2 linked regions of the Homo sapiens genome follow. The protein of the gene in region 1 interacts with the protein of each later gene in a pairwise test. Each region holds a gene or a part of one and is shown on either strand. Other genes may lie near its edges.

What was found. The genes of interacting proteins can lie anywhere in the genome.
Region 2: the proteins of ACAP3 (region 1) and SLC35G2 interact in a two-hybrid assay, tested with the Homo sapiens proteins (one large-scale study listed by IntAct).

The regions. Positions count from the first base shown.
Region 1 is NC_000001.11:1,291,754-1,294,923, forward strand, and holds the end of ACAP3 (arf-GAP with coiled-coil, ANK repeat and PH domain-containing protein 3), read right to left. Parts: intron 3,064-3,170; coding exon 2,965-3,063; intron 2,876-2,964; coding exon 2,649-2,875; intron 2,447-2,648; coding exon 2,337-2,446; intron 2,181-2,336; coding exon 2,070-2,180; intron 1,956-2,069; coding exon 1,811-1,955; 3' UTR 638-1,810; downstream 1-637. UniProt on the Homo sapiens protein: GTPase-activating protein for the ADP ribosylation factor family.
Region 2 is NC_000003.12:136,825,605-136,829,254, reverse strand, and holds part of SLC35G2 (solute carrier family 35 member G2), read right to left. Parts: intron 1-3,650.

The DNA.
Region 1 (3,170 bases):
TCGGCGCCTCTGGTCAAACCACCTACACTGCCTGGGGTGGGTCTCAAGGAGGCCCGGGGCGGAGGGGGGTTCCCGCGTGCACACGAGTGCGGCTGGACGTGCCGACACGCGGTGATGTACCCATGCTCCGTGTGTCTGTGTCTGCATGTCCACACGTCTGATGCACCTGTGTACGTGTGTCAAGCCTAGCCACCTCAGCTGCAGGGAGGCAGAAGGCAAGGCAGGCCCCACGGACACACTTGGGCTGCTCTGAAATAAAGCTGTTGACTCCACCTGGCGGCCAGTGTGTGCCTGTGTGCCCCTCCAGCCGCCCCGCGCCCGGTGAGCTGAAACCCTGACTGCACCTGGCGGGACGAGCCCCAGCCTAGCCTCGCCGGTTCGCGTCCACCCCTCTTCCCACCAGGAAACTCAGTCTAGGACAGAGAAGGGTAGAAGGGCGAGACAATGGGGACCAGGGGCATCAGGACCCAGATTTTGTCAAACGAGCCCCAGGTCCCCATCAGGCCCCTTGCGGCCTGTTGGAGTCTGACTTGAGTGAGTGCTACCCGGCTCAGGAATGCCCCTCGGGGAGGGCAAGGGACACAGACACTCCCCGGAGACAGAGCAGAGCAAGGCACGGGAGCCCAGGAGCAGGCAGTGGGCGCAAGTGCTTTATTCAAAGCGAGGGGTGGGGGGTGAGACCCGCCAGCAGGGGCCTGGGGCAAGAGGCGGGGCCAAGCTCACACAGGGAGAGGGGCAAGAATCAATTCTGTTCTTCAGGGTCACAGGCAGCAGGCAAGAGAGTTGGGGGGCCGGGTCCAGCGCCCACTGTGCCCTCAGGGAGCCTCCCCAGGGCAGCATTGCATAGTGACCAGCCGACTGGCCTTAGCCTGACCTGCGCTGAGTGGGGGAGGCCCTGCCTCCCTGCCGGGCACCTTTGGGGAAGGGGTGCGTGAAGGCATTGGCAGGCCCTGCAATATGAGCCGAAAGACCCCTGGACCCAAGGGGGAGGCTGGTCAGGGGCAGGGCTGGGGCTCAGGCGTCCTCAAGAGTCCACAGAGAAAAGACGCAAGACAAAGTCAGACGAGGCCTATAGCAAACCCACTCGGTCCGCTACAAAGAACATGAGATGAGGGCTGCAAAGTGGCAAAGTGGCTTTATGCGCAGGCTCTGGGCCGAGTACCAGGAGAAGGTGCCTCCGGAGGAGGCCGGGATGCGGCTGGGGCTGTCTGGCACGGGGACCTTCGTGGCCAGCCACGTGGCCTTGGGACGCCCGCGTCCAGCCAGGGCTGAGGACCCAGGCCAGAGCCCCTCCCGCCCAGCACCCGCGACGCCAGCCTGGATGCTGGGGTCACTAAGTGAGGTACTCGTTGGTTCCCTGGATGGGCCACCCTTTCTGCCCTGGGAGGAGGCTCTGGGGTGTGCAGGAGGGAGCCAGCTAACAGGTCAGTGTTCTGGGCAGAAGTGGGGCACGAAGTAACACAGGCCCTGAGGACACAGGGACACAGGTGACACGGGCCTTAAAAGTGGCTTGTGACATGAGCAACCCAGGCCCCTGAAAAGGGGTGACCTGAAGACAGAGGTTCCCCAGGTGGGGTGAGGGACACCCGACGATGCAGCACCCCCCCAGGGAAACGTGAGGCTTCAAGAGACTCAGTGTGGGGCCCTCGCTCTCCTCCTGGGCGAGCAGGGCCGCGGCGCCCCAGCACTGGGGCTGCCAGGTATCGACCCGCGGGTCACACGCAGGGCCGCGGCCGGGTGGGCGCCAGGGACTTCGGGGCATGCGGGGCGTCGGGCCGGGCGGGGTGGCAGCTGCCCGGCCTGCCCGGCCCTAGCTCTCTTCCAGGTGGAGGCTGATGAACTCCTGGATACACCTGCGGAACTGGAGCTCCGTGGGGCTGCCCGCCAGGGCGCCCGGGGGACCAGGGGCAGCCTCGGCCTCGCGCATTTCCTCCGCCATGCGCGCCAGACGGAGCCTACGGGGAGGCACAGCGTGAGACGCCCCTGCCCTGGAGGCCCCGCCCCTGCCCTGGAGGCCCCGCCCCTGCCCTGGAGGCCCCGCCCAGCCCCGAGGGCCCGGCCGCGCTCACAGTGTCACGATGTCAGCGTTGGCCGCCTGCACTGCGATGGCCAACGGGTCCCGCTGCTCTTGGTCCAGGGCGTGCTGGTCCGCGCCCCGCTTCAGGAACAGGCAAACCTGGCTGAGGGGCGAGGTCGGAGGGGCGTGTCGGGGCGGGGCGGGGCGGGGCGAGTGTGGTCGCGGGGGCGTGGCCGGATAGGGCATGGCGGACAGGGCGTAGCCGGGCCGGGGTAGGCGTGGTCGGGGCACAGGGCGGGGCGTGGGTTGCGCGTCTCACCCGGTGCGGCCCAGCAGCGTGGCGTGGTGCAGGGGCGCCCGGCCCCGGCTGTCTCTTTGGTTCACGTCCGCTCCGTTTTGCAGCAGGAACTCACAGACGATCAAGGAGCCCTGGGGAGCCGGGGCAACTCAGACGGAGCCACGGCACCGGCCCCTCTCCGCGCCTCTGCACCCTGACCCCGGCCTTGGGCGCCCCCAGCCGGGACCGAACGTGGTCCCCACCGCGGACAGGCGACCCTTGTGTGGGCGCCACAGAAGATGCAAACGCGACTGTGCACCTGTGTCCTGCGCGCAGCCCCCGTGGCTCGCTCACCCCTAGCACGGCCTGCACCAGCGGCGTCTTGCCCTCATCCTCCGCGTCCGCCCAGTTGACCTCGGCCCCGTGGGCCAGCGCCGCCGCCAGCGCAGGAAGGTCGCGGGCACGCGCTGCGCGGTGCGCCAAGAGCCCCGGGTGCAGCTCGCGCACGTCCGCCAGGCCCCAGGCCTCGGCCTCAGTGTCCCCGTCTGCCTCACCGCTGGACTCCTCCGACTCTGCACCCTCTGTGGGGAGGGGGCGGTCAGGGAAAGCAACCCCCGGGGCTGCCCAGGGGCTGGGCAGGGGCCTCGGGCGAGGGCAAGACGCCACCCACCCTCCTCAGTGACGCTGTCCACCACAGAGCCCGAGCCGAAAGCCAGGACGTCCGAGCTGCCATCCGAGCTGCCCCCAAGGCCACTGTCGCTACTCAGACCTGCAGGTCCGCAGGGAAGGGGGTCCTGAGGGTGGGAGGCCCAGACTCCGTCCAGAGCCCTGGGGCAAGGCTGGAACTCCACCCACCCTCCAGGGGCCACCCCTAGG
Region 2 (3,650 bases), on another chromosome or scaffold:
CAAGACTCCATCTAAAAAAAAAAAAAGTCATCTAAAGGTACAAAACTCACTGGTGATAGTAAGCACATAGAAAAACATAGAATATTATAACACTATAATTGTGGTGTGTAAACTGCTCTTATGTAGAAAGACTAAATGATAAGCCAATCAAAAATAAATTTTCAAGACGTAGACAGTACAATAGATGTAAAGAGAAACAACAAAAAGTTAAAAAGCAGAGAGATAAAGTTAAAGTGTAGAGTTTTTATTAGTTTTCTTTTTTGCATGTTTATGCAATCTTTGTTGTCATCAGTTTAAAATAGTGGGTTATAAGACAGTATTTGCAAGCCTCATGGTAACCTCAAGTCAAAAAACATACAACAGATACACACACACACAAAGCAAGAAATTAAATATGCCACAAGAGAAAATCATCTTTACCAAAAGACAAGAAGGAAGGTAAAAAGGAAGAGAAGACCACAAAACAACCAGAAAACAAGTAACAAAATGGCAGAAGTCCTTACTTATTGATAACATTGAATGTAAACAGACTAAATTCTCCAATCCAAAGACACAGACTGGCTGAATGGATTAAAAAGCAAGACCCAGTGAATCTGTTTCCTACAAGAAACACACTTCACCTATAAAGAGACACATAGACCAAAAATAATAAAGGGATGGACAAAGATATTCCACGCCAATGAAAACCAAACAAGGACAAAAGTAGTTATACTAATATCAGACAAAATAGATTTCAAGACAAAAACTGTAAGAAGAGACAAAAAAGGTCATTATATAATAATAAAAGGGTCAATTCTTCAAGAGGCTATAACAACTATAAATAAATATGTACCCAGTGCTGGTGCACCCAGATATATAAATTAAACATTACAGGGAAAGAGAGAGACCTCAATACAATAATAGCTGGAGACTTCAACACCCCACTTTCAGCATTGGACAGATCGTGCAGACAGAAAATCAACAAAGAAACATTGGAGTTAATCTGCAATATAGAACAAATGGACCTAATAGATATTTACAGAACATTTCATCCAACTGCTGCAGAATACATATTCTTCTCATCACATGGATGATTCTCAAGGATAGAACACATGTTAAGTCACAAAACAAGTCTTAAAACATTAAAAAGGTTGGGTGCGGTGGCTCACGCCTGTAATCCCAACCCTTTGGGAGGCTGAGGTGGGCAGATCACCTGAGGTCAGGAGTTTGAGATCAGCCTGGCAAACATGGCGAAACCCCATCTCTACTGAAAATGCAAAAATTAGCTGGGCATGGTGGCGTGCACCTGTAGTCCCAGCTACTTGGGAGGCTGAGGCAGGAAAATCGCTTGAACCCAGGAGGTGGAAGTTGCAGTGAGCCGAGATCATGCCACTGCACTTCAGACAGAGCAAGACCCTGTCTCAAAAAAAAAAAAACAAAAACCCTGAAATGATACCAAGTATCTTCTCTGACCACAAGTAAACTAGAAATCAATAACAAGAAGAATTTTGGAAACTATACAAACACATGGAAATTAAGCAATATGCTCCTGAATGACCAATAGGTCAATGAAGAAATTAAGGAAATTGAGAAATTTCATGAAACAAATGATAATGGAAACACAACACACCAAAAGCTATGAGATACAGTGAAAGCAGTACTAAGACAGAAACTTACGGCTATAAATGCCTACATCAAAAAAAGAGGAAAAACTTCAAATACGTAACCTAATAACACATCTTAAAGAATTAGAAAAGCAAGAGCAAACCAAACCCAAAATTAGTAGAAGAGGCCAGCAATTTGAGAGGCTGAGGCCGGCAGATTGCTTGAGCCCAGTAATTTGAGACCAGCCTTGGCAACATGGCAAAACCTCATCGCTATAAAAAATACAAAACTTAGCCAGGCGTGGTGGTGCACACCTGTAGTCCCAGCTACTCAGGAGTCTGAGGTAGAAAGATCACTTGGGCACCAGGAGGTTGAGGCTGTAGTGAACTATAATCATGTCCCTGTGCTCCGGCCTGCATGACAGAGCAAGACTCTGTTTAAAAGGAAAAAAAAAAAACTTAGTAGAAGAAAATAAATAATAAAGATTAGAGCAGAAATAAATGAAATTGAAATGAAAATACATAAGGTCACTCAAACAAAAAGTTGGGTTTTTTTAAAAGATACACAAAGTTGACAAACCTTTAGTCAGACTAAGAAAAAGAGAGGACCTTCCCTCCACTATTGTCCTATGACCCTGCCAAATCCCCCTCTCCGAGAAACACCCAAGAATGATCAATAAATACTAAAAAAAAAAAAAAGAAAAAAGAGAGAAGATCCAAATAAATAAAATCAGAGGCAGCTGGACAAGGTAGCTCATGCCTATAATCCTAGCACTTTGGGAGGGTGAGGCAGGCACTTGAGCTCAGGAGTTTGAGACCAGCCTGGGCAACATGGTGAAACCTCATCTCTACCAAAAATATAAAAAATTAGCCAGGTGTGGTGGTGCATGCCTGTGGTCCCAGCTACCTGGGAGGCTGAGGTGGGAGGATTGCTTGAGCCAGGGGAGACAGAGGTTGCAGTGCATCACGACTGCACCACTGCACTCCAGCCTAGGTGACAGACCACATCTCAAAAAAATAAATAAATAATAAAATAAAATTAGAGATGAAAAAGGAGACATTACAACTGATACCACAGAAATTCAAAGGATCATTTGCGGCTACTATGAGCAACTATATGCCAATAAATTGGAAAATCCAAAGGAAATGGATAAATTCCTAGACACATATAAAACACCAAGATTGATCCATGAAGAAATTTGAAACCTAGACAGACCAATAACAAGTAACAAGATCAAAGTCATAATAAAATACTACTGATTTTTGTATGTTGATTTTGTATCCTGCAACTTTACTGAATTCTAAAGTTCTTTTCCTCCCCATAAAGAAAAGCCCAGGACCTCGTGGTGGCTCATGCCTGTAATCCCAGCACTTTGGGAGGCCGAGACAGGCGGATCACGAGGTCAGGAGATCAAGACCATCCTGACTAACACAGTGAAACCCCTGTCTCTACTAAAAATGCAAAAAATTAGCCGGGCATTGTGGCGGGCACCTGTAGTCCCAGCTACTTGGGAGGCTGAGGAAGGAGAATGGCGTGAACTCAGAAGGTGGAGCTTGCAGTGAGCCAAGATCGCGCCACTGTACTCCAGGCTGGGCGACAGTGTGAGACTGTGTCTTAAAAAATAAAATAAAATAAAATAAAGAAAAGAAAAGCCCAGGACCTGATGGCTGAATTCTACCAAACATTTAAGGAAGCATTCTAATCCTATTCAAACTGTTCCCAAAAATAGAGGAGAGAATACTTCCGAACTCACTCTATGAGGCCAGTATTACTCTGATACCAAAACTAACAAAGACGCATCAAAGAAAGAAAACTACAGGCCAATATCTCTAATGAATACTGATGCAAAAATCCTCAACAAAATACTAGTAAAGCAAATTCAACAATACATTAAAACAGTCATTCATCATGACCAAGTGGGATTTATCCCAGGGATGCAAGGATGGTTCAACATGTGTGAATCAATCAATGTGATAAATTATATCAACAGAATAAAGAACAAAAATCATATAATCATTTCAATTAATGCTGAGAAAGCACTTGATAAAATTCAACATCCCTTCATG